4 linked regions of the Homo sapiens genome follow. The protein of the gene in region 4 purifies or fractionates together with the protein of the main gene of each other region. This does not show direct contact. Each region holds a gene or a part of one and is shown on either strand. Other genes may lie near its edges. The genes, in order: VPS54, SLC25A15, SLC25A31 and TXNDC2.

Region 1 (8,333 bases), on a different chromosome or scaffold from region 4:
TTCATAGCATAATACTTGGTACATAGTAGACATTCAATAAATAATTGCAACAACTATTATTATAAACTTTTTTTTTTTGAGACAGTCTCACTGTCAGCAGGCTAGAGTGCAGTGGTGCAATCGCGGCTTCACTGCAACCTCCGCCTCCCAGTTTCAAGCCATTCTCCTGCCTCAGCCTCCTGAGTATCTGGGACTACAGGCGCATGCCACCACGCCCAGCTAATTTCTGTAATTTTAGTAGAGACAGGGTTTCGCCATATTGGTCAGGCTAGTCTTGAACTCCTGACCTCAGGTGATCCACCCGCCTTGGCCTCCCAAAGTGCTGGGATTACAGGCGTGAGCCACCACGCCCGGCAAACATCTTACTTTTTAAATGGTCAGCAAACATTAACATTTCAACTGTGCCATGCAAAATTTTAAAATAAATGCAAACTTTAGGATCCTGAGCCTCCTCTTCTGGCGTCCTTTTCTTTGCTTGAGCATTCCTAATCCTGGAGAGAGAGGTGGTGGGTAGGAGAAAGTAGAGGGAAAACAGCAATAACAAACTAAACCAATATGGGCAGACATAACTTACTTTCAGAAAAGTCACCAAAGCATAGAAAAATGATCCTCATTGCCTTGCCACTAAAGGGGGTAAAAAGAATATTGGAAAGTGATAATGAAGCTAGAAAATATGGTGGCCTAGAACATAAGCAACTTTGATGACAAAATTGTGCCCGTGGGAGAGAAGACAGACGAGGAGGTGGTAGGGGAGTGACTGGAAATAATGGTTTGGAAGACATCTGAGCATAGGTCAAAGTTAAGTCCATGGAAGTAGAGTAGACGAGATAAAAATTACAATTTTTGAGTTGGACAAGACTTTAAAAGAATATCTGGCTTGACTTTCTACTTCATATATAAATCCTTTCTACAAGGTGTCTTTTTGCCTCTACTTGAAAACTTCAATAATGAAGAATTAACTACTTTAAAAGCAGAGTACTACTGTAAAACAACCATAATTACTTTGGAGAAAAAATATTCTTGTAGTGAACAGAATCCTGCTTCCCTGAATTTTCCATTACTGCTTCTAGTTCAATTACATTACAGGAATGAATTAGTAGATAACTACAGATAGTCACAGGAAAGTGATATTACAAATGGAGAAAGTGCCGAAGAAGAGAGCTAATGAAAGCTCTGAAGAAGGGGTAGGGCAAATATGTTTAGAGGAAAAGACAAAGGCAATCAGAAATACCATCCTTACACAGGGAAGATGTGTCAGGAAGTAAAGTGCGAACAGTAAGTAGCATCAACATGCTGCAAAGAGATCAAGGAGATTACTAACTTTAGAAAGGATACTGGATTAAGAACAGTTTCAGGACAGTGGTTAGGGAAGAAGCAATCCCACTGAGGTTAAGAGGTAAGTGATGAAGTAATAAAGGCAACAATATCAACATCTCTTTGGTGGTAAAAGGAAAAAAAAAAAAAGAACAAGAGTTGAGCAAGAATCTTTTAGGCTATCGGAGACCTGACCATATTTGTAGGCAAACAGCAAGAAGCCAATTGAAGGGTGAGATTAAAGAGGAACAAGAGGCCGGGCGCAGTGGCTCATGTCTGTAATTCCAGCACTTTGGGAGGACGAGGTGGTTAGATCACCTGAGGTCAGGAGTTCAAGATCAGCCTAGCCAACGTGGTGAAACCCCATCTCTACAAAAAATACGAAAAATTAGCCGGGCATGGTGGCATGCACCTGTAATCCCAGCTACTCAGAAGGTTGAGGCACAAGAATCGCTTGGACCTGGGAGGCAGAGGTTGCAATGAGCCAAGATCATGCCATTGAACTCCAGCCTGGGTGACAGAGCGCGACTCCGTCTCAAAAAAAAAAAAAAGGAACAAGTAAGTGGTGGAGAAAGGAGATGGTCAGAGTTACATACACACAGGAATGGGGCGAGAGGGGATGGGAAAAGGAGAGGCAAAGTGAGAAAGAAAGAATATCAAGCCCAGGGACTAAAAGGCACCTCAGGTTTATGTCACACCTTGAGAAAGACAGGACTTTGTCAGTCAACAGTGAGAAAATAAGCAGGCTGACCTAGAAAAGTTGCCTCACACCCTACTCCTGTGCCCAATGTGTGAGTGGGAGGAGGAGTGGAAATCAGCTGGGACTGCAGGCTCTGAAGGTTCTGTGAAGCGCTAGATCAAGAGCATGTAAAAATACGCTATCAATGAAAGAAGGAAGGATGACAGGGAAGAATGAAATGGAAAGACAAGAAGAATTGCATCATCACTAATATCTGACTATACAGTCAAATACAGTGAACACTATACAGTTCATAATAGCTTACTTTCAGATGTTTTTGTTCATCTTCAAAATAACCTAGTAAGAAAAATATTTCTGAATGAATCAATGAATCAACGATCTCCATTATATGAATGAAGAAACAAGTTCTAGAGTAACTTGATTTCAGACCATTCAGTGAGTTAACTGTGAAGAGGGAATCTGAATTCAGATTTTCTGATTCTAAGTTTCATGCCTCTGTCTCTGCACCAATAAAAAAATTTTAAATTATGTCACTACTCCTTCCCACCCATTTCAGGCTCCTGGTGCTTTCCTCTTCTGTCTTTGTCTCCTTATCAGATCAATGACTGAATCAATAATTATTTACTCTCATAACTGTTACTTATGTTCATCTTCTATTGAATGATAGAAATAATTAACATCTAATTGTGACAATTTTATAAGACCAGGACTATTCCAAAAGAAAAAAGATACTATACATTTTCTTTTCTTTTTTTTTGAGATGGAGTCTCGCTGTGTCGCCTAGACTGGAGTACAGTGGCAAGATCTCAGTTCATAACAACCTCCGCCTCCCGGGTTCAAGCGATTCTCCTGCCTCAGCCTCCTGAGTAGCTAAGACTACTGGCACCCAGCACCACACCCGGCTAATCTTTGTATTTTTAGTATAGACAGGGTTTCACCATGTTGCCCAGGCTGGTCTCAAACTCCTGACCTCAGGTGATCCGCCTGCCTCAGCCTCCCAAAGTGCTGGGATTACAGGCGTGAGCCACCATGCCCAGCCTACATTTTCATCAGTGTAATTTACTGCATTTTTCTTACCAAAGGAGTAATTGTGCACCTGTAACGTGGGATAAATATACTACTTTGGCGCATCATTTTAGCACTTTCAAGAAAGTTTGAGCCCAAGAAGTTGAGGCTGCAGTGAGCTGTGATGGCATCACTGCACTCTGACCAAGGCAGTGGAGAGAGGCCATTTCAACAACAACAACTTCTGAATTCCATATAATTGACCCTTTTTTTTTTTTTTGAGACAGTCTCGCTCTGTCACTCAGGCTGGAGTGCAGTGGCGTGATCTCGGCTCACTGCAACTTCCTGCTTCTGGATTCAACTGATTCTCCTACCTCAGCCTCCCAAGAAAATGGGACTACAAACGCCTGTCACCTTGCCTGCCTAATTTTCGTATTTTCAGTAGAGACGAAGTTTCACCATGTTGGCCAGACTGGTCTCAAACTCCCGACCTCAGGTGATTCGCCCACCTCGGCCTCCCAAAGTGCTGGCATTACAGGCGTGAGCCACCGCGCCTGGCCCCATATAATTGACTTATAAATGAACTTTTTTAAAAAAAGTCTATTTATAATTTGAGAAAACATGGATAAAGTGGAATTTCTTTTTAACACTGGAGCTGGACAGAGCTTTTTTGACATAATTTTGATACAATTTTGGACCTAATTTTTTTAAAAGTCCACAACTGACTGCTGTTTTTTTAAAAGCAAACAAAAAAATCTCAAATTTCATTTCTCCAAATTTACAAGTACTGATAATATGCAAGAAAAACTTAACCACACTGTAATGTCCTACCAAAGATCAGTTTGACAGAACTCAGGAGTTTATGTTACCATAGTAAAAACTCTGCCCCCTCCTTTCTCCACCACCTTTTCTTGTTCCTATTTAATCTCATCCTTCAGTTGGTTTCTTGCTGTTTGCCTACAAAATACATCAAATATCTCATGTTCTAAGAAGTACTTTCCACAACATTTTTGAAATGTAAAAGCCAATTTCTGGCAAATGTAAGTTTTTCATACTACCTATACACAAATAGCAATATACTTCTACACTATTTATCATTTGACAAAATCTAGTTTAATCATAATTTTTAAAAATCTTTAAATTTTTTTAAAATGCGTATCACATATTATTGCTCACAAAAATCTCAATATTGAAGGTACAATTTAAACATAATCTCAAGAAATACTAACATTGGGGCTGTCATATAAATAAGTACTTCTATAGTCCTCTTGAGCATTAAAGAAGTATGGAAGAGGCTTAAGGAACCCAGAAAATAAGAACAAAGTTGTAGTAATCTAATTTTCTTTTTCTTTACATCCTCATATGGCATTTATGAAACCCTGTGCTTTGCAGGAAACTCTGAATGCATGCGCTTCCTAAAGTTGCTTATTTACTTTTTATTTAGTGACAAGAAACAATAAGAAATAATATTGACTAGGAGGATAAAAATTATAACAATTTGTAATGTTAAATTTAAATATTTTTAAATGGCTTATAAAACAAATGCTATTTCATGTGATATCTTTATCAGGAAGAAAAATCATAAATATCCTCATAAAATATATACTTTTTAAGTCTAGATATTATTCCAAATAAAAGCAATGTCTTTTTTTCCCCAGCACTCAGAGAATTATAACATTATAGCAGCCATTAAAATTAAGGGGAGGCCGGGCACGGTGGCTCATGCCTGTAATCCCAGCACTTTGGGAGGCTGAGGCAGGCAGGTCACAAGGACAGGATATCCAGACCATCATGGCCAACATGGTAAAACCCTGTCTCTACTAAAATACAAAAAGTTAGCCGGGCATGGTGGTGCACGCCTGTAGTCCCAGCTACTCGGGAGGCTGAGGCAGAGCAATCGCTTGAACACAGAACGGGGAGGTTGCAGTGAGCCGTGATTATACCACTGCACTCCAGCTTAGCAACAGAGCCAGACTCCATCTCAAAAGAAAAAAAAAATTGATTAAGGGTCACAGGCCTGGAATATGAATAAACTATACTAAGATAAAATCTGTCTCTAGCATGTAAAAATTCCAACAACAACAAAAAATAGCTTGGATGCTTTCTTACTCCTTTGGGCCACTGATACGATTGTATTACTAGTGAAATTTTTGTCAGTCAAAATGAACCATATTAGACACTGGTATTCTCTTCTTGGTGTCCCAGCCAAAAATATTAGCAAGATAATCTTAAAATCTCTCATTCAGAGGTACTGAAGAATAAATATGTCTCAAATATATAAACTATTAGATACTTATTAAGTAACAAAGATGATGCTTTCAAGGAATTTTCATTTTAGGGAAAATAAAGCAAAATAGCTAAGAAACATCTGCAATAAGTCAGTAAATAGTTTACAAATAAAAATATTAAATGTTAGTTTAAGGGAAAAGTAAATACAGGGTTTATGATTACTATAACCTCAAACAAACAATAAATTAGTATTTTAATTAATCACTCCTTGGCATTACCCTTGCATCTCTCACCACTGGTTGGCTATCTTAGCCCTGCTCTACTTTACTAACTTCATTACTTAGCCTACATCCCCATTACTTCATCTCCCTTGCATCTCTCCTCCCTCATCCACCTTCAATACAGTGTGTCTTTGCTTTTCTCCTGCTTGCAGAACACTGCCAGAAAAAACAGTAAAATATGCTGATTACAAATTTATGAGTTCCAATCTCAGATGAGCCTCTGATGCTGCTCAGCAATTCTTTCACTTATTTATCTTGAAACACTTCTCTTCTCCATTCCCCACAATATGTGGAACATTTTCATCACTCTCCTCAAGTCCCCTAGCCTACTTCCAACAACGCAAGGCTCAAAAAGTAACTGTTTAAAAAAAAAAAAAAAAAAAAAGTCCCCAGATGTAGTTTTTTCCGTTCATATCCAAATGTACCTAATTCTCATCTATACACAACTCTTAACTTTCTGAGATAGAGTATAGGTGTCTACTCTTTTCCAGAGTTAATCCCCCAACAGCTGTTTTTGATCTTACCTCTTCCTGCTTCATCTGGGACCTTTTTCTATTAGTTATTCCCCAATTCTATCTTTAATCTCTTCATCGGCCCATCAAAAAAAAAAAAAAGAAAAGAAAATTTCAAGCACCAAATGAAGGCCCTTTCCCTCCTCCCTGCCTCCTCCAGCTACTACTTCTCACCTCCCCTTCATTGGCAAACCTCCGTTCTCTTTTTGGTCTACTTCCTTAGCTGTCTTCCATCTTCACCATTTACTTGGCTCCAGAAAAGGTTAGGAATGACCTGATTTCTACATTCCGTGGCCTATATTCAGAATTTATCTAACCTGACCTCAATGCCCTGAAAAAGTCAAAGAAGGTAATAAAAGTAGAAGGAATGCAAAAAGAAAAGTTACCATTTGTAATCCTCCAACATAATGACTGATTCAAGCAAGGATCATTAATGGGTACCAAAATCACTGGTTAAAGGGTTGTCAGGGAATAGGATATTTACATGGCTATTAAGTATCCTCTATAAATTATTTATTAAACAGTAGAGAGATCTGTCAGTTCACCTTTACCAAGTGATCAAACTTGCATTACCGATATAGTGATAGCCTGAAATCATGTGCCTCCTGATGTAATACAGCAGAAATACACATCATCTGTGTGATGGTCTCACCAGAAATGTCTGACTAGAATCTAATCATGAGGAACAGACCAATTCAGAATGTGGAACATGCTCCAGGACATATGGTCTCTACTTCTCAATGGATAAACCTAAAGAAGAGAGGAAGGCGGTAGGACTAGTCCAGATTGGGGGAGACTTAAAGAGACATACCAGCCAAATGCAATGCATTAACCTTGAATGAATCCTGCATTTGAGGGGGGAAAAAGCTATAAAGATTTTTGGGACAAATGGGAAGATTTAAGTATAGAGTATACATCAAATAATGTTATTAAGTAAATGCTGATATATATATATGATATATATATCAGCATTTATATATAAATATATATCAATATATATCATATGATATATATCAGCATTTATATATAAATATATATCAATATATAGATATATATTGATATATATATCTATATATTGATATATATCACATATATAGAGATATATATATCATATAGAGAGATATATATATATCATATATAATACCAATCAATACCACATTACTTATTCTGAATATTGTCTGCAACTATTCCACCCTCAAATTACCCCATAAAAATCTTACTGAATAGCTGGGCCTTTGACCACCTCTACCCTTATTTTTATATGATTCTGAAAGAAAGGTGACCAGTTAACAAAATTTTAAGAAACCAGCCAGGCGCGGTGGCTCACACCTGTAATCCCAACACTTTGGAAGGCCGAGGCAGGTAGATCACAAGGTCAGGAGTTCGAGACCAGTCTGACCAACATGGCGAAACCCTGTCTCCACTTAAAATACAAAAATTTGCTGGGCGTAGTGACACGCCAGAAAGATGAAAAATAATTTTAAAAGAAATCTAGAAGGAAATGAGATTTTACAAATGGTGAGCAGGCTTACAACCCCTATTTCTTCAGTTAAATTCTCACATCTGAAGAATAATTACCTTCAGATAATAGAAAAACCCTTCAAATACACAGGAAGGCAGGCATAGTAAATGAAGACAAAAGGATTATTCCCCAAAAGGGAATTAATCCAAATAACGACAGCATACTCTTAAAAACACTAAAACTTTTTGAATAAGTCACTTCCAAAAATTTTAACTCTGAAGTAAAATATATATATTTTCAAGTCTTCTCAAATAGCATATTTGAAAACAAGGTAATCTTTTCTTAATAAGTTAATTTCACCATTATAATAATCAGTTATTTTACTGTGCTATAACGGTGATACTCTCAGGTGCTACAGAAGGAAGTCAGTTTGCCCCTATATTAAGGAGTTTCAGATTATAGTGATATACTAGTTATTTTACTAGTTTGTTATCAATATTTGTATTTAGTGCTTCTCTCCTCCCTAGAGAGGCTGTCAGCCATCACTATTCTCCGCCTTACTATCTACATTCCTGCCTTTGACAACCTCTATATTCCTTCCTAATTTGATTCTTCTGAAGCGAATAACTCTTCTACAGTATATTATAGTTGACACTGCATCTTAATACATATTACCTCATTTAATAATTCTTACAATAGCCTTGTAATACATGGATTATCACTACCCCTATTTTATAGATGAGAAAACTGAGGCTCAGAAAGAATAACTTGAGTAACTTATCCATAAGGTATGGATGATAAATAGCAAAAGTGATCTCAACTGTCAATTA
Region 2 (7,040 bases), on a different chromosome or scaffold from region 4:
TCAGCAAGAAGGAGACTTGGCTTGGACAGATGAAGGATCAAGTCCCAAGGTAATAAAGGCCACAGACATTTAAAAACTATTTTCCTTCTGAGAGCTTCAGAAGACACTGTCAGGTATTCCCCATCAGCCAGCCCTTCCTGCAGCACTGCTACATGGAATGTAACAAAGTAATCCAGCTCAACACAATTAACCTCCCTTCCAATCCGAGTCTTAGCCCCAAGCTACCATACCATGCCTTGTGTGAACACTGCTAGACCTCAAATACAAAGTCAACTGATAATTCAAGGTGTTGATCTGCCTAAGTCCTTTGGATATAACTATTACTATCTTTTAATTACCTTGAATTACTTCCAAGGAACATGAGGGCAGCTTTCTGGGTGTTGTTAATGTTCTATTTGTTAATCTGGACACAGGTTACAAAGGCACATAAATTGTGTCACTATTTATAGAGCTGCATACTGTGACTTCAATGTGCATTCATGATACTATGTGTATTATTTCAATAAAAAGTTTTAAAGACTTACACTCTTGGACTTCTAGGCAATGAATATTAGATTCAAGTTGGCTGTAATGAATCTCAAGGGTGCAGAAAATAGGGCACTTTTCCAAACCCCATTCTCACTGAGTGGGGACTGATCCTTGAAAATGGTCAATTTATCTACTGCTTTTTCCCAGCAGATTTATAGGCTTTGAGTTAACCACAGCAATATCCTTGGTCAGAACTCAGCCAGATGTCAAGATAAGTAAGCAAGTTTTGCAATTAATAAGGATAATAAATTGCTTTCCAATTCAAGTAAATCAAATTGTGTATGAAACAGTACTCTCAAAGGATAATGAGAATGTGTTTTCAAGAGTGAGCTAGAGAGTGATTTAATCACTGAAGAGTAGCTATGCTTATAAAAGTATTGATTAATGTTCTCAGAACTTGGGCCATCTGCAGGTACACTTGAAGGACTGGGGATAAGTGGGGTAAGAATAGTTACCTCTAGGATCTGGGTCAATCAGCCTGAATACCCATACGAAACCTGAAGTGGGGATCAAATATTCATCTCAGAATCCAAATTGGCACTTATGAAGGCTCAGGTCTAAGGCAAAGTTCAAAAGCCACCCATTATGTACCTCCAAAAATGGCTGAAGATCATGCCTTATGTTTCCAAGAGGCCAAAAAGGGTGTTAAGCTCCTGGCTTCTCCAGTTCTGGGGTATTAAATATCTGTCTAAGACTTTTTATGCAGTGGGTGGTGGGTCCCATCACAGCCAATCCTTTCAGAAAATCTCTGATAGGGGAAAGCATTCTAGAAACAATATTTTGGAGTAGATAAATTGGCTTCCACATCTGCCACTTTAGTACAATGTAAAATGAAAAATCATCCAATACACTAGGGCAATAGAGACCTGACGTTTGTGCCCAAGTGGTGCTTACTTCTGGCTCTTGGCTATCTTCCCTGATGTCTCCATCTCATACATGGTCTGCAGCCGGCACTTCACGAGCTCCGTGGGGCAGAGCACCAGTGCAGCAAAGGCAGAGGCGAAGGAACCGGCGGCTGCATTCTGCAGATCACTGAAAGCACACAAGCAGACAGTTACCCCTCAGTTTCTTCATTCCTTTGGCACTCACCACACAGACAGCACTTTGGTGATAAAGCAGGGTAAGGAGCCGGGCGTGAGGGCATGAACCTGTGATTACAGCTACTTAGGAGACTGAGGTGGGAGGATCACTTGAGCCCATGTGTTCTAGGCTACAGTGCTATGACTGCATCTGTGAACAGCCACTGCATTCCAGCTTGGGAAACAAAGAGAGACCTCCATGTCTAAAAAAATGATGAAAGGGCCGGGCGCCGTGGCTCACAACTGTAATCCCAGCACTCTGGGAGGCCGAGGCGGGCGGATCACGAAGTCAGGAGATCGAGACCATCCTGGCTAACATGGTGAAACCCTGTCTCTACTAAAAATACAAAAAAAAAAAAAAATTAGCCGGGCGTAGTGGTGGGTGCCTGTAGTCCCAGCTACTCAGGAGGCTGAGGCAGGAGAATGGCGTGAACCCAGGAGGCAGAGCTTGCAGTGACCTGAGATTGTGCCACTGTACTCTAGCCTGGGCAACAGAGTGAGACTCCGTCTCAAAAAAAAAAAAAAAATGATGAAAGGAAGGAAACTTGCATGTGCTGTTTCATCTAAGGATCCCACAACCCTATGAAGCAGACAGCAGCACCCCAGTTCCCTATGGGAAGTGACACTTAGAGATGACATAATGTGGCCAGTCACACAGCTACTAAGTGGCAGTGCTAGGATGTGAACCCAGGTCTTCCTGACTGCAACAACCATATTCTTTTGATTACACACAGCGCTATGGACTGAATTTTATCCCCCCAAGGTGATGGTGTTAGGAGATGGGGCCTTTGGGAGTAATCAGGTGTAGATGAGGTCATGAGGATAGGGCCATTGTGATGGGATTAGTCCCTTAGAAGAAGAGGCCAGAGAGCTCGCTCACTCTCTGCCATATGAGGACACAGTGAGAAGACGGCTATGTTCAAATTAAGAACAAGCCCTCATCAGACACCAGATCTGCTGGAACCTTGATATTAGACTTTTCAGACCATAGAACTGTGAGAAATGTTTGTTTAAGCCACTCAATCTGTAGTATTCTGTTACAACAGCCAAAGCCAAGATACATCGTGACATGACAAAATAAAACGCCACAAAAAAACCTAAAGGAAAGGAGGAAAATATTGCCCATAGTCCCCCACTGAAAAACATGCACTATTAATACTTCAGTGTGTCTGCCCTAAGTTTTAAATAAATCTAGGTTCTAAGCCTATCCCCACATGCCCACAATCCAACCTGGAGCAACCAGATGTGCAATGTAACTGCCACAGATGAAAACCCAGAAAAAACGTTTAACCAAAAGTTGCTGCATCACAAAAAGATTTTCCAGTTCAACTGGTGACCTACCACCTCAGCAACACAGACGAGGGTAAAATGGTGCCACAGGAGTGGGTGAAGCCAGTACAAGTCTGCAAGCTCAATGGTATTAGGTGAAATTGCTAAACTGGAAATCTAAACTAGGCAGAGGGATGAATGCACAAATACAAAACAGAAGCATTCACCTCATGTATGGATTTAGTACCAGCAGCCAAATGTCACCAGCAGGGTTGTGAAACTGGAATCCAGTAAGAGTTCAAGAATATGGGGAGGCCAGGCGTGGTGGCTCATACCTGTAATTCCAGCACTTTGGGAGGCCAAGGCAGGCAGATCAGTTGAGGCCTGGCCAACATGGCAAAACCCCGTCTCTACTAAAAATTAGCCATGCCTGGTGGTGCACGCCTGTAATCCCAGCTACTCTGGTGGCTGAGGCACAAGAAGCGCTTGAACCAGGGAGGCAGAGGTTGCAGTGAGCCAAGATCATGCCACTGCACTCCAGCCTGGGTGACACAGTGAGACTCTTTCAAAAAAAAAAAAACGAATACGGGGAAAAGTCTGAGAAGTGTTTCAGAAGAAAGGCTTCTCTGCGAGTTCCTGGTTCATGGGAGTTGGGATAGAAGATCCCTTCCAGCCCTAGAAGAGTGTTGTGTCATGGGATCATGACTGGCATTTGGGGGTAGGACAATCCTTCATTGGGCAGGAAGGACTGAACTGGTTCCCTGACACCCATTCAATGCCAGCATCATGCTCTCACTGGACAGCCAAGATCACCCTCAGAGATTTCCAAAAACCCCTAAGGGTGGGTGGGAATCTCCTCAGCTAACTACTCAGGTAGAGATATAATCCCCTAACAATTTTTCTCCAAACTGTGAGCAAAAGCACAGATGGGGCAGGGCACGGTGGCTCACACCTGTAATCCCAGCACTTTGGGAGGCCGAGGTGGGCAGATCACGAGGTCAAGAGATCAAGACCATCCTGGCCAACATGGTGAAACCCCATCTCTACTAAAATACAAAAATTAGCTGGGCATGGTGGTGGGCGCCTGTAGTCCCAGCTACTCGGGAGGCTGAGGCAGGAGAATTGCTTGAACTGGGGAGGCGAGGTTGCAATGAGTTAAGATTGCGCCACTGCACTCCAGCCTGGGCGACAGAGTGAGACTCCGTCTCAAAAAAAAAAAAAAAGCACAGATGGACTTACCATATTCAGGGGTACTCAAGTTTTTCCAGTGTTAAAGATTAGTATAAAATCAAGGTGGCACCAGTCTTGGCCCTGGTTTGCTAGTCCCTGGTGGTCTAGCTTCTGTACCATGGCCAGAGGCAACTCTTTCAGAAGACTTGGCTTAGAGTGGAGCTTTCTTTCAGTAGGAAGACACTGTTTGCAGTAAGGACTTCCTTTTGATGTTAGAGAATTAAGCCTAAAACCATTAGCAAAGGAGAACCAGGTACACAAATGTACTTGCACACGCTTTTATGGGGTGTGGAAACCATCCAATGCTGTTCAGTCCACTCCTTTCCCCCACTTCACTCCTTAGCAGCTTGTTAGAACTGAAGCTTAAAATGGTTTCTGTTGTCTTGCAGCCAGCCTGCAGATCCACAGTTGGCCTCCCTCAGGGACTCTCTGTTAACCTGTTGACAGGCAATAGTCAATTAGGAGCATTAACCAGGATCTGCCAAGTTTGCCAGGACAAAGGTGGCAGTCAATAAATGTAGAAGTCTATTGAGTTTAAGATATAATAATGGCTCAGACATCTGAATGAACACCAAGCACATTATTATAGTGCAAGGACACAGTCAAATCAGATATGCAGTGGACTTTGGCTTTCCAATAAATACTTTCATTGACCAGTGCACAGAAGGAGGTGCATGGGCCCCTGGTTCTGCATGTAGTATGAATGTGTAGAACTGGAATTGAAACAGTAATAGGTATAGGATGGGATTTTGTAAGAATCATCCATTTGTCATATGTTCAACAAACATGTACCTGAGCACTCCTGCTATGTAAGACCCTGTCCAGCCAAACGTCAAACTAGAACATTCTGGGTCATGTTGAAACCGGGAACAGACAAATATTTACAATGTGATTGCAGAAATTCACCACAGGCTCTCACAAGCAGTTCTTTCCTTTCACTGCTCCTGATTAATCTTCTCTCTAGAACTGACCCTTATAAAATATTCCAGACCCCCAACTGTGGTCTGATGGAAAGGAGACTGGGCAGGAGCTCAGAGGACACAATTTCAAGTCCTTAGCGGGGTGACCTTGAGCAGGTCAACATCGGCACCTCAGTTTTCCATCCCTAAGAGAGGTAACATCTGCCTTGCTCTTCTCACAGGATCACGGTGAGGGCTATAGAGACATGATATACATGTCAGAGCTTTGTAGACTCTAAGAGAGCATTTCCCCAACAGGTAAGAGGCAAACACTGTTCCTCAGGATGGAAAAAAAAAACGGGCCCAAGCTCAAAAAAGATGAGTGCTGGATTAGACAAGGTTAATCAGGATGGTTTCTTTTCTTTTCTTTTTTTTTTTTTTTTGAGAGACACAGTCTCGCTCTGTTGCCCAGGCTGGAGTGCAGTGGCATCATCTCACTGCAACCTCTGCCTCCTGAGCTCAAGCAATCCTCCCACCTCAGCCTCCCTGGTAGCTGGGACCACAGACATGTGCTACCACACTCAGCTAAGTTTTGTATTTTTTGTAGTGACGGGGTTTTGCCATGTTGCTCAGGTTGGTCTCAAACTCCTGGGCTCAAGTAATCTGCCCACCTCAGCCTCTCAAAGTGCTGGGACTACAGGCGTGAGCCACTGTGCCCAGCCTTACGCATCTTTAATGAACTAAATAACACATACACTATATGAAATAAATGTACCCAGAGTGATTCTTCACGAGAGAGACACTGTGACGTAATTTCCCAACCCTTTCTTAAGGACACCCAGCAATTCAATGTTCTGAAAGCAGTGTGGGAAAATGCAGCTGTAAGGTATTAGATTGTTCTCAGCAGAAAAGCAATATGCTCTTACCTGTCCTTCACTTTGTTCACAGGCTAAGGAAGCAAGAAAGTGGAGGGGCGGGCAGAGCCAGATCCAGTGGTTTCACTCATGCAAGACAGAAGTCACTGTCTATCCTGTGGCTGGAGGGGCTACTTTGCTCAGAAGACACAGGTCTTCCCCAGAATCTCACGTGGCTGCTTACTGTTTCCCTGTCTTCTCTCCCCATTTTGTCCTTTGCTAAGGAAACTGAACTGAATTCCAGGTCTTCTCTAATAGAGTGTCTCTCCTTCAACAGGGAACAAAACTACAGTTGCCTGTAGTTTTTGCTTCTGTTCAGTCTCCATCATGGCATGCCATACTCTCCTGGTTTGTGCCCTGCTTGTTTCTTTACTGCCTTCCTGCCTGCCCTTTCTGTGCTGGAGGCTCATCCCATTCATGCTCAGCCCTCCTCGCTGTCTACACTGTCTTCTTGGGCAATCGTATCTAGTCCCAAGCCTTTTTAAAAAACAAGCTCTACCCATCATGGTGGAATTCCTGTCTATAAAAGGGCACACCTTCAGACCTCCAGGCACCTCCAGAGAACAGTGCTGTGCACAAGAAACCGAATTCAGTTGTGTGGGACCTGCAGCTGCAATCAGGTTTCAAACTCCTACTGAAATAACTAAGACTGCCCTTTGCAATCTTGAAGCTTATATAATAATTTTAAGTGGTATAAAATAAATCAACATTCAAAGCAGGGATAGCTAAACATCCCAGTGGTTTCCAAATTCTGTTTAGTCTCTATATAATAAATACCCAAGGCAAGACCAACAAAGAGGCAAAGTCTGATGTTTTGGGAAGATTTGGACAGAGAAAGGTGGGTTCCCTTGCATCTTCGCAGACATTTCCGACCCTTCCTAAAACTCCTCAAGTTCATCTGGCTCAGACAACCTCTTCCAATACTCTGCTTTTTGCTAATGAAAGAAAAGCTAAATCTTGGATCATAAGCAGCATCTACAGTTTCAGTGCAGCATGTCTGCTGACGAGAGGTAGCACTGCCAGCTGCATCTGAACAGCATTCTCCTGGAGAAAACTGAAACAGAAGGGCGGTTCATTCTCAGTGGTGGATGATGAGCAGGTCTCCTCTGTGGTGTGCATAT
Region 3 (3,500 bases), on a different chromosome or scaffold from region 4:
ACTCTATGCATAATGCAAGTTTATCCCAAATTATTTCATTTACAAATGAACATCTGGAGTACATGTTTATAAATTCAGGAACACACACATACACATTAGTAACAATTACTTGAGCACTAACTATGGTGTAGACACATGTTGAATATTTTACATGCATTATCTTCTTTAATCCTCACAACTACCGTATCAGATAGGTATAGTTATTATACCAGTATACCACTGAGGGAACTGGGGCTGAGAAAGGTTAAATAAAAACTGTTCAAAGTTACAAGATATAGGAAAGGCTGAGACTTGGTTCTAGGTCCATTCGACTCGAGGTCTAGAGTTACTGCACTTCTATTGCCTCTATATAAAAATCCATTCTGGATAAAACAGTATTTTTTGGTTAGAATAAAACAAGGTTAAAGCAGAAGTGATACAATGGCAGGAACGTTTTGACTCTCTAGTCATACAGAATAAATGGATGGTTTCTTAATATATATCACAAAATTGGTAGAGAAAAATATAGTGATGGTGACCTCTTTCTCCATTAAAAGTAAAATAAATAAATAAAAGTTTAAGTTTCTAATTCCTAAGAAAAAAATTTCTTCAAAATTTAAGAAGGATGAGAAAAACCTGCTCTGAACCTAATTTTGAACAAATAAATAAGAATTGAAATAAAAGTGACAGGAAAAAGTTACTGGGCCATTTATTGGCTGGCCTTGCCAAGAACAAGAATGTTAGGCATTCACGCCTGTAATCCCAGCACTTTGGGAGGCCGAGGCGGGCGGATCACGAGGTCAGGAGATCGAGACCATCCTGGCTAACAAGGTGAAACCCCGTCTCTACTAAAAATACAAAAAATTAGCCGGGCGTGGTAGCGGGCGCCTGTAGTCCCAGCTACTCGGGAGGCTGAGGCAGGAGAATGGCGTGAACCCGGGAGACGGAGCTTGCAGTGAGCCGAGATCGCGCCACTGCACTCCAGCCTGGGCGACAGAGCGAGACTCCGTCTCAAAAAAAAAAATAAATAAATAAATAAATAAATAAATAAAATAAAAGAATGTTAGGCATGTTTGGATATACAGTCTAAACCAACATTTTTTTTTTTTTTTTGCAGGGGAGGTTCAACATGTTTTGATGATATGCCTATCAATTAAAAAAAAAGTCTGCATGACTTCCAAATAGTATACATTAATAAATTATATACCTTTGCAACTATACTACCATATTATGTACATCTGTAAAACATACTCAAAATATAAATTAAAGAATGAGATAAAGATTTTTCATTTAAAAACTTTTATTTGGTACCTCCTCCACAGCAGACATTTTGTGCCTACTGGGGACAGCACTAGGAACAATGTTCCTGATCTTATGGAGCTTACATCTTAAGAGGGAGGGACCAGGGAGACAGGTAGCAAATAACTATGTCTGTTAGCAATAAAAAACTGTAAACAAAAAAACAATATATGAAGATTGGGAATAATAAAAGGCTATTTAGATAGGGTTGTTAGGGAAACTTGAATGTTAGATGATATTAGAGCAAAGTTAAACATTTATTTAAAAGATGAAAAACAATATTTTCAAACATCTTGCTAATTATGATGCTTTCACACCACCATTTACTATTATCTCAAGGCACTGTTAGGGTGAAGTTCATTTTTAAGAATAGTATATAGGAATCTATATTTCAAATAGTCTTCTTGTCTCAGGTCCAATTAGACTGTCATTGTTTCTACACTGAATGTCATGTGAATGATGAAATAATACGCCATTTCTTGGAGTAAATGGCATCAGCTTTTTCTTGTGGTTCATCATTTGATATTGGTGTTACCCTTGATTTGGTTTTCACGGCAGAATCTTTTTCAAAGTTTTGTCCATGTTTTGAGGATTTAGTTAAAACCTGATAATAGAATCTATAAATCCAGTTAATTGGGCAAACATAAACAATAATATATTATTGAGGAAGGGTGCTTGTCATTCCCTCTACCTTGTGTAACTCCCACTCTTTTTTTCAGGATCCCTTAATGTCCCGTGATATGTAACTGACATTGGGCCCAAGCATAGGGGACAATGCCAATTTATATATTAAATATCAGTAAAATTTATTTTTGTATTTTACTTAAAGTACATATAAATAAAATACCTAATATTTTCTTCCCATACCCCAAAATAGCATCTTCAAGATGGACCCTAGGATATTAAAAAACCTCACTGTTCTAAGTCTTCAGAAAAATGGGTTTGGGAAAAGCTTAGATGAAAGCTGATAAACTCGTGACACGGAACTCCTAAAAGAGAAGAGTTTGGATAGGCTTGTAAAAATGAGACTGTACGGATCTTTTTTTTTTTTTTTTTTTTTTTTTTGAGACAGTCTTCCTCTGTACCCAGGATGGAGTGTAGTGGCACGATCTTGGCTCACTGAAGCCTGTGCTTCCCAGGTTCAAGTGATTCTTGTGTTTCAGCTTCCCAGGTAGCTGGGACTATAGGCGTGCGCCACCATGCCCAGCTAATTTTTGTATTTTTAGTAGAGACGGGGTTTCACCATGTTGGCCAGGCTGGTCTTGAACTCCTGGCCTCAAGTGATCTGCCCACCTCTGCCTCCCAAAGTGCTGGCATTACAGGCATGAGCCACCACACCCAGAAAATCAGTTCTTTAAAAGGCTACATTTACAATATACTAATAAGACAGTTCCTTTGATTAAACACATATTTACATATGTATATTTTGCTCAGTGAAAAACCAAAATGTTAATTGTGGTGACTTTAGCAGTGATGTTACTTTTTGCTTCTTTATATTTTCTAATTTTCTACAATAATTATGCATTATTTGCATAATAAAGGTTTAAACAGTGTTAAATAAAAGTACACATACAAAGTTGGCAGGTGATAAAACCAACTAAAGAATATAATAAATCTTTAAGAACAACATAAGGATAAATCCAGAAGCTTTCATAAGCCAAGAAAAGCTTATAAAAAGTGTCAGAAACACTCAAAGTGATATTTAAAGCTATATTCAAGGCAAGAATGCAGAGATCTATTCTTGTAATGGAAAGAAAGTAGAGATAAGGTAAGAAACTAGAGAGCATCTAGTTGTGCATTCTGTGTTCATATCTCTTTCTCCAGCTCATTTCACATGGCCTAAAGAAAGGAAAAGTTGTGAATAAAATTAGAGAAAACATAAAAACAATCTTCAGGACACCTGAGATGTGCATGTGTCTTGACTTTCAAAAAAGAAAGAGAAGGCAAATTGCAAGAAATTTATGTTTTAAAATAAGGAAGTTGGTAGGTCATGACCATACCAAAAATATAATAGTCAAGCTTGCCTCTACTTATAACGATTCAGTTGTAATTAACTGCATATTGACATTTTGAAATACGTCAAATAAATATGTGTACAAGTATACATACAATCATCATAGATTCAATAGCTACAAATACAGATGACACAGGTTGAGCATCACTAATCCAAAAATCCAAAATTCTCCAAATCTGAAACTTTTTGAGCACTGACATCATGGGCA
Region 4 (9,025 bases):
TGGATATATGCACTGTCACTAAAAGCCCATTTCTATGAAAATGCAGTACACCTGAATCTAGAATCCTCTCGTTGAAAAGCCCTTTGCCATTATGGCTTCAGCTTTTACTGAAGAGTCTTACCAAGAATATCCACATGAAAAACTGTCCTGAATTTATTATAGAAAAATCTTGTCAAGAACTTCGTTTATCATCGAAGTCTCAAATGTAGTGTCCAAGATGAGAAATGTCATTCAGGAATTTAGTTAAGGAAAAGCTTTGACTCTTTTGCAAATTCCTAAGCCTGCTTATTTTGGGTGATGACATCTGGGTATTATTGAATTTATCTCTTCTCTCTCACTTGCCAAGAGTTCAGAACAAAATTTGCTGCTCTAACAGAGCCATGATACGAGCCCACAGAGTTGACACGTTACTCACTTCATGGCTCTGATTCCTCTTTCTGGTTCGTTAGCTTTATCATTAATCCTTTTGTAGGCAATTCCAAATTTTTTTGGAAAAAAGGCCAAGCATATAAGGTATTTCATTTTGTTTGCAGTTGTTAGGCCATTGTTAAGGGTGCAAATGAAGCCTATAACTGAGGTACCACTAAGGAGAGTCACGATAGGCACATGATGGAAGGAGATGGGGCAGTCTTGGTCCTCTTTTTTTTTTTTTTTTTTTTTGAGACACAGTCTCACTCTATCACCTAGGCTGGAGTGCAGGGGCACGATCTCAGCTCACTGCAACCTCTGCCTCCCCGGTTCAAGTGATTCTCCTGCCTCCTCAGCCTCCTGAGTAGCTAGGATTACAGGTACCTGCCACCACACCCGGCTAACTTTTGTATTTTTAGTAGAGACAGGGTTTCACCATGTTGGCCAGGTTGATCTCGAACTCCTGACCTCAGGTGATCCACCCACCTTGGCCTCCCAAAGTGCTGGGATTACAGGTGTGAGCCACCGCGCCCAGTCCCAGTCTTGAACTTAAGATAGGGATTGCAACTCAGCTGGCTAAGTGAAGAAGCCAGCCAGGTTCTGCAGCAGAAGACTGGAGAGAGTGCGCCCTATCAGATGGAGGCAGCTGCCGCTCAGACCCGAAGGTTAGATTGGTTTTCTTGAGGTAAGGCAAGCCTGGATTGCCAGATCTTACAATTTTTCAAGAAAAGCTAGACATCTAGATTTTTTTTTTAAATCCTGATATTTGAAATGTTGGCAACAAATTCAAATTTTTAAAAACACTCTGGACCAGCAAAAAGTAGAATGGTGACTGCCAGAGGGTGGGGGAAGGGGCAACGGGGAGTTGTTCGATGGGTGTTAAATTTCAGCCACACCGATGAGTAAGTTCCACAGATCTGCTGTGCGGCATCATGCCCCTAGTTAACAGTACAGTACTGGGCACTTAAAAATGTGTTAGGAGAGTAGATCTGTTAAGTGCTTTTACCATGATAGTAATAACAATAAAGCACAGTGACACAAGGAAACTTCTGGAGGCAATGAAGGTGTTAATTACTTTGATGGTGGAGATGGCAATCAAGGGCATATGCAACACATCCAAACTCATCCAACTCCCTCCATTAAATATGTGCTGTTCTTTGTATATCAATTATACCTAATGAAGCTGGTTTTATTCATTTTTAAAAACCCACTCTGGACTAAGCCTCTGTCTATGGTTCAGACCTGGGACTTTGGGCTCATAGACATCTGGGGCTCACTAAGTTGTCCAAACAAGACTCTGGTAGCACTGTGATTAGGTTAATTCATTAAAGTCTAGGCCTATATGTCTAAGCTGGTAGAGTCATGTTAAAGGCTGGCTTGTTCAATATTGAAAATAAGAACAAATTTAAGTAAAAAAGTCAGAGGAAGGTCTAGGTATTATGAACTCAATTACCAGGGAGACGAACCAGGAACTCTGCCATCAGGGCACTGATGTCATAAAGGCAGCAAAGATCCAGAGGACTTCAACCTCCGAGAAACCTGAAGTTCCGACCTCTTGTCTGAGATTTTGTGAGCGTAGATTATAGTAGGTAGAGCCCTGGACTTGAAATCTGGAAGCGGCCTTGATCTCATTTCCGTCACCAACAAATCAGATCTTGGAAAACCCACTGAATTTCCCAAGGCCTCCGTAGCACTTCCGGCACAAGAAGGAGGTTAGCTAAGATGTGAATCTTTCAAATTCCTTATTTCCAAACATATCTTATCAGAATCCCCAAAGATGTGTGACATGAGAAAAGAAGTTTCCATTCACCTTTCAGTCATCTACCTCTATAGAAAAATTATCTAAATTTTCAGTCTTGCTGCAAACACTAAATGCGTGAAATTTTCAAAGACAAGTGAAAAATAAATACATATCAAGATTGAAAAATAGGAAACCATGGGACTTAGCAGTCTTCACCATGGGAATTTCTAATTTTATACTCTCCCACTAACAGAAACACAGTCGCAATGTACTTTAATGCTTGGACTGTTTTTTGAAAAGGGTAGAGTTAATATTATCATGTACAAGCAGTGCCATTTGGACATACACTTTTGTTATACCTGATCACTTTGTGTAAATAATAAAAGAGAACTCAAAAGCTATAAACACCTGACTGTCTGCAATGTTTTCAGAATACATGTTTACTTTAATTCTGCAATGACTGCTTCAAGTTTTTCCTTAAGGGCGCCGCAAAGTTCATCCACCTTTTCTTCTTTTTTATAAAACTGAAAGGTTGGGACACACATGATGGCGCACTCTCTCACCACCTCCTCACAGTTGTCAGCGTCCACCTCCAGGAACACCACATCCTCATGCTTCACAGACAGGGCATGGAAGAATGGTCTGATGGTCCTGCAGGGCCCACACCACGTGGCCGAGAAGTCCACAGCCACCAGCCTCTCCCCGGCCTCCTTCAGTGATGCCTCAAAGTCCTCCTTGCTCAGGATCACTTTCACCTTGTCCCCCTCCGGGAACTCCATTGTTTCTTCTTCAGGCTTTAGGATGTCACCCTCCTTGGATGGGGTGGCTTCTTCTAGGGACTTGGGGCTGTCATCCTCCTTGGGCTGGATGGTTTCTTCTGGGGACTTGGGGATGTCAATCTCCTTGGGTGGGATGGCTTCCTCTAGGGACTTGGGAATGTCACCCTCCTTGGGCTGGATGGCTTGTTTTGGAGACTTGGGAATGTCACCCTCCTTGGGCTGGATGGCTTCTTCTGGGGACTTGGGGATGTCACCCTTCTTGGGCTGGATGGTTTCTTCTGGGGACTTGGGGATGTCACCCTCCTTAGGCTGGATGGCTTCCTCTAGGGACTTGGGGATGTCACCCTCCTTGGGCTGGATGGCTTCTTCTGGGGACTTGGGGATGTCACCCTCCTTGGGCTGGATGGCTTCCTCTAGGGACTTGGGGAGGTCACCCTCCTTGGGCTGGATGGCTTCTTCTGGGGACTTGGAGATGTCACCCTCCTTGGGCTGGCTGGGCTTCACTGAGGCCTTGGGAATATTGCCCAGCTTGGGCTGGATGGGCTTTGCTGAGGACTTGGGGATGTCACCCTCCTTGGGCTGGATGGTTTCTTCTGGGGACTTGGGGATATCACTCTCCTTGGGCTGGCTGGGCTTCACTGAGGTCTTGGCAATATTGCCCAGCTTGGGCTGGATGGGTTTTGCTGAGGACTTGGGGATGTCACCCTCTTTGGGCTGGATGGCTTCTTCTGAGGACTTGGGGAGGTCCTCCTTCTTGGATTGGATGGTTTCTTCTGGGGCCTTGGGGATGTCACCCTCCTTGGGCTGGCTGGGCTTCACTGAGGCCTTGGGAATATTGCCCAGCTTGGGCTGGATGGGTTTTGCTGAGGACTTGGGGATGTTACTCTCTTTGGGCTGGATGGCTTTTTCTGAGGACTTGGGGAGGTCCTCCTTCTTGGATTGGATGGTTTCTTCTGGGGCCTTGGGGATGTCACCCTCCTTGGGCTGGATGGTTTCTTCTGAGGACTTGGGGCTGTCATCCTGCTTGGGATGGCTGGTGTTTGCTGAGGACTTGGGTAGGTCATCGCCCTCCTGTGAGGCATCAGACTCCTCTGTGCGCATGTGGAACGTGTGGCTGACCATGGGGAGAAAGGCCTTCTCTTTGGCCTGGGCTATTTCCAAGAACTCTAGGGCCAGGAGAGGCACGTTGCTGGACAGGACTAGTAATGAGCTTTCTGTACCAAAAAACATAAAATAAAATAAAATAAAATAAATCAAATAGAAATGCAAAAGAAGAACCAAAGAAATTCTCTTCATATTCCAAGGAAGACTGATGTCACTCTTCGAGATCACGAATGAAGTCTGATGAATGATGTATTAATCTGAAAAACTCATTCAGCAGAAGGACAAACAGCGTGTGGTTACACGTATCTTCTGTATACATGTTCTTAAGCTACAACTTTCCCTTCTTGGTTCAACACCCTGCCCGCTCCCTAACTGCATAGGTCTTTAAGGCAACCCTCTTTCCTCCCCTACTTACCATTAGCATCACCTTCACTTGTTTCTTCCTGAGTGCCCAGCCTCATTTCTGGTTTTCCAGAGGCTCCAGCTTTAACACTTTCCATTCCTAGTTCCTTGTCTACATCCATTCCTGATCCTTCATAGATGCCTCATAGTAAAGGCCGTACCCTCCAACTTTTTCCAAGCTATCCATCCTAACATCAAAATATGAGTAAAACTTACATTTGGGTGGCACGTTACAGTTGGTTTTCCCTCTCTGTATTCACAACAGTGATATTTGAGAGCTTCAAGGTGGCTCCCCTGTGCTGAGGCTGGGACTACGCATTCACTGGCATCATTTCCTAGAACACAACAAACCACTGAGGTCAGAACCATTATGATGAGTAGTTTACACATGAGAAGCTATGTAGCTCACTTAAGGTCACAAAGCTAGGGTGGGGGCAGGCTCCAAAGCTCATGCTCTGCACTGTGAGGCTGTGCTGGACTGCTCGCCACAAGTCCCGTCCAGCCTGGGTTCTGTGAATCAACCATCTTATCATCTTTCTCCAGGATCCCCCAGCTCCAACATTCTCTTTACGACTCACCCATTGTGACCAGCTCCTAAGTATCTCCTCGAAACCATGTTAGCCTCCTCTGCAAAGTGTCCCACAATGTCAAATGTTCAGCTCCTGCTAGACAGCCTCTTTCCCCACCTCCCCCACCTCCCAGGCGCACCAGCCCAGCCTGTGCCCTCCCCCATGCAGACACATCCAAGTACACGGCTCTTCCAGCCTTTACATACAGGAGAACAACCTCTTTGTGAATAATCCTGGTTCCATAAGCCACATCTACCCCATCCTGTGGAATGGGAAGCCAAATACCTGTCCCCCAGGGAGACTTATTTTATTAGTTCAGGACCACTGGCTCATTTTCCACCCTCACTCTGCACAACACATCCAGTCCAAGGCAGGAAGAATCAGTGTGGAATTTTGCCTTCTCTACATGTACTTTGAACAAATCCTCATATGTTTCAGTTTCACCCCAACAATATAAGTGTTGAAAGTGGTCAGGCATGGTGGCTCACACCGTGATCTCAGTACTTTGGGAGGCCAAGGTGGGAGGATTTCTTGAGCCCAGGAGTTTGAGATCAGCCTAGGCAACATAGCAAGACCCCATCTCTACAAAAAATACAAAACCTAGCCAGGCACAGTGGCACACGCCTGTCCCAGCTACTTGGGAAGCTGAGGTGGGAGGCTTGCTTGAGCCAGTGAGTTCAAGACTGCAGTGAGCCGTGATCACTACATCGTACTCTAGCCTGGGCAACAGAGCAAGGCCCCGTCTCTAAAAACTAAAAATAAAAGTGTTGAAATCTAAATGATAAGACCTCCACATTGTCAATAGAAACCTCGAAACATCTAATGGCAATGGTTCAATTATCTGGATTTTTATACCAAAACACATTTTACTAAGGGGTAGAGAGACTATTGGCCTTAGCAAATCCATAGTTCCTTTTTTTTTTTTCTTTGAGACAGTCTTGCCCTGTCACCGAGGCTGGAGTGCAGTGGCACAATCTCGACTCACTGCAACCTCTATCTCCCAGGTTCAAGCAATTCTCTTGCCTCACCCTCTCGAGTAGCTGGGATTACAGGCATTCACCACCACACCCGGCTAATTTTTGTATTTTTTTTAGTCGAGACAGGGTTTCACCATGTTAGCAAGGCTGGTCTCTAACTCCTGACCTCAAACGATCCACCTGCCTCAGCCTCCCAAATTGCTGGGATTACAGGCGTGAGCCACCATGCCTGGCCCAGCAAATCCGTAGTTCTTGATGATATGAATCCTGTTCCAGGAAGAGCTCATGCTTCCACTCCGTTTCCTCGGTTACTGCCAAAGAAAGCTCTTCCCTCTCTCACTGGGAGACTTTGGGCCTTTCTTATGTGATATTTTAAAGGACGGGAGGTTGTCTTCACTCTCCAATGCCAACGGCTTCCACAGCTGACAGGACTGTTTTTCATGGTGCCCTATTTTAAAGCAGAGGATGAAAATAAACGTCAGGCACTTATCTGGGCAATGTCTTCTTTCTTAGTGTTAGGAGAAAGGAGGTGAAGCGGGGAGGATAGGCATCATTTGCAGAAACCATCATGAGCAGATTTTATTAGCACAAAGTGGGCAGCATCTTTGGCCCTTGCTCATTGGTAAGTTAATTTACTTCCTGGGACCCTATCTTGTACAGGGTCCCTGCTGTTTGGAAGGGAGTGGATGAGGACACAGAGGAACTCCATCGCTGAGAGGCAGAAGTGAAAACATCACTCCTGCCATCCCAGTAGATGTGGAGGCAAGAGGACAGATGCCTGTGTCCCGGCCTCCTTTCTCCAGGTTGATTGCCAGCACAGATACTAATCAGATGTGCTACTCTACTAAAAATGCGATTTTAGATCTCTACTAAAAATACGAAAGTTAGCCGGATGTGGTGACAAATGTCTGTAATCCCAGCTACTCAGGAGGCTGAGGCAGGAGAATCGCTTGAACCTGGGAAGCAGAGGTTGCAGTGAGCGGAGATGGTGCCACTGCACTCTAGCCTGAGCAACAGAGCAAGACTCTCTCAAAAAAAGAAAAAAAAAAAAGATAAAAAAAGACTTGCAGCTGAAAGCAGAGGGGCATCTGCCTCCTGCTCCACTTGGAAGGCCAGGATGAGCCCACGTGGACTTCACATCCAACACAGCACTGTCCTCGTGCAGCGTGGCCCCTAGTAGAGGGTAAGAATGGATGTGTGGACCTGGGGCAGGCCCCACAGCCTGCAGGGAGGAGGTTAAAGATCTAGCAACGATGTACACCTCAGAGAGTGGCTGGGAGTGCTCTGAGACTGGTGAAAGATAGAGGCCTAGAGGAAGAAGACTCAGAGGAGGAGGATCTGTGACCAGAGGCAAGGACTGGAATCACAGACTCCAGCAGTGAGTAACATCACGATGCCCCTGTCCTAAATGGAATCAGTGGGTCCTTCAAGAGATCTCAGGCTGGGGACCAGGCCAGACCAGCCAATTCACATGGGAAACCAGCACGGGACCAGAGCACCCGGCACGTTTATCCGTGTAGCCCTGGGCATCCAGACACTATGGACAAAGTGAGAACTCTGAAAGATTGCACCGCTACACCATGGAAAAGGGTTCTTTGAGCCAAAATTCCACAAACAGGCAAACTTAATTCGGTTTCCCTGCTCCTCACCATCCCACCCCAAAACCCATTGAGATAAGGCTCATGGGAAGGATGAGCCATTCTAGAGAAATGTATAAGTGATATTGTACCTGAATGTCTTAGTAAAAGAGAGGAAATCTGTGATCCTGTTACATTTATACTTGGAGATCTTCGTTGTGTTTTAGGTTTGGCACTTGTTCCTGATATTTTTACTCTTCCTTCTGCAATTCAGATGAATTCCAAGCAACTTGAAATATTAATTCTTCCACTGACTTGTCATAAAATGTATGTTTTCCTTCAGCAGAAGCTCATTCCCAAATAGCTCATGAGCCCTTATGTCACTCAGGTTGTGTCTCAGGAAACAGAAACAACCAGCTATTTTAGGCCTAGGATTATTTGGGCAATTATAAAACTGCTGGCGAGGCTGCCTGTTTAGGCTAGGTATCCCGGAATGATTCCCAGAACACTGAGCAATGATACAGAACAGGCTTGCCAGGATCATTACAACCTCCAGGATATCAGGAAGATAGGGAATTAGAAGACCACCACCCAAACTGTTAGCTTTAATAACCTTCTGCTACAGCCACCATCCAGGGGTGAGTCCGCCCCAGCCCCAACTCCCTCTGAGCCCAGAGATGGAGATGAGTTCTGGTCATCTGTTCCAACCCCCACTGAACCCCCGCAGACTGAGGCAGAGCTGATACTGTGGCCTCCTTCTCAAGAAGGTTCAGCTACTGGTGGATGCTAATTCATACCCAGCGACTCAGCTGCAAGGGAGTCAAGGGAACATGACTTTTTGTTCCCAGAAGGAACAAAGAAGGACACCAGAAGGAAGTTGGAATAAACACTGCATGTAAAGCCATTTCTACCACACCCTTACAAAGACAATATTATGCACAAAAATTTTTGTTTTTTGAGATGGAATTTCACTCTTGTCGCCCAGGCTGGAGTGCAATAGTGCAGTCTCGGCTCACTGCAACCTCTGCCTCCCGGGTTCAAGCAATTCTCCTGCCTCAGCCTCCCCAGTAGCCAGGATAACAGGCGCCCACCACCACGCCAGGCCAATTTTTGTATTTTTAGTAGAGACGGGGTTTCACCACATTGGCCAGGCTGGTCTCGAACTGCAGACTTCAGGTGATCTGCCCACCTCAGCCTCCCAAAGTGCTGGGATTACAGGCCTGAGTCACTGTACCCGGCCTATGTATGAATTTTTTATATCTTTTGCTGGCATACATTTTTGGTTTATAATTACAAAAATAATATGTGTTCATAATATAAAAATTAGAAAACAGATAAGTAAAAAGAGAATAAAAATTACTCGTAGTTCTTCATACCTCAGGAATCATTGCTATAATAGTGTGATGTACATTCTTTGTCTTTTGTCTATTCACATGTAGATATTTTCTTTTTTTTTTTTTAAGAGATA

The links.
Region 1: the proteins of TXNDC2 (region 4) and VPS54 purify together in Homo sapiens (affinity purification with mass spectrometry; one large-scale study listed by BioGRID and IntAct). This does not show direct contact.
Region 2: the proteins of TXNDC2 (region 4) and SLC25A15 purify together in Homo sapiens (affinity purification with mass spectrometry; one large-scale study listed by BioGRID and IntAct). This does not show direct contact.
Region 3: the proteins of TXNDC2 (region 4) and SLC25A31 purify together in Homo sapiens (affinity purification with mass spectrometry; one large-scale study listed by BioGRID and IntAct). This does not show direct contact.

Annotation. Positions count from the first base shown.
Region 1 is NC_000002.12:64,006,563-64,014,895, forward strand, and holds part of VPS54 (vacuolar protein sorting-associated protein 54), read right to left. Parts: intron 5,893-8,333; exon of another isoform or gene 1-5,892. UniProt on the Homo sapiens protein: Acts as a component of the GARP complex that is involved in retrograde transport from early and late endosomes to the trans-Golgi network (TGN).
Region 2 is NC_000013.11:40,799,638-40,806,677, reverse strand, and holds part of SLC25A15 (mitochondrial ornithine transporter 1), read right to left. Parts: exon of another isoform or gene 5,954-7,040; intron 1,561-5,953; coding exon 1,423-1,560; intron 1-1,422.
Region 3 is NC_000004.12:127,733,400-127,736,899, reverse strand, and holds part of SLC25A31 (ADP/ATP translocase 4), read right to left. Parts: intron 1-3,500. UniProt on the Homo sapiens protein: ADP:ATP antiporter that mediates import of ADP into the mitochondrial matrix for ATP synthesis, and export of ATP out to fuel the cell.
Region 4 is NC_000018.10:9,881,706-9,890,730, reverse strand, and holds TXNDC2 (thioredoxin domain-containing protein 2), read right to left. Parts: upstream 4,759-9,025; 5' UTR 4,651-4,758; exon of another isoform or gene 4,557-4,650; coding exon of another isoform or gene 4,448-4,556; intron 4,143-4,447; coding exon of another isoform or gene 4,051-4,142; coding exon 2,590-4,050; 3' UTR 1,456-2,589; downstream 1-1,455. UniProt on the Homo sapiens protein: Probably plays a regulatory role in sperm development. May participate in regulation of fibrous sheath (FS) assembly by supporting the formation of disulfide bonds during sperm tail morphogenesis.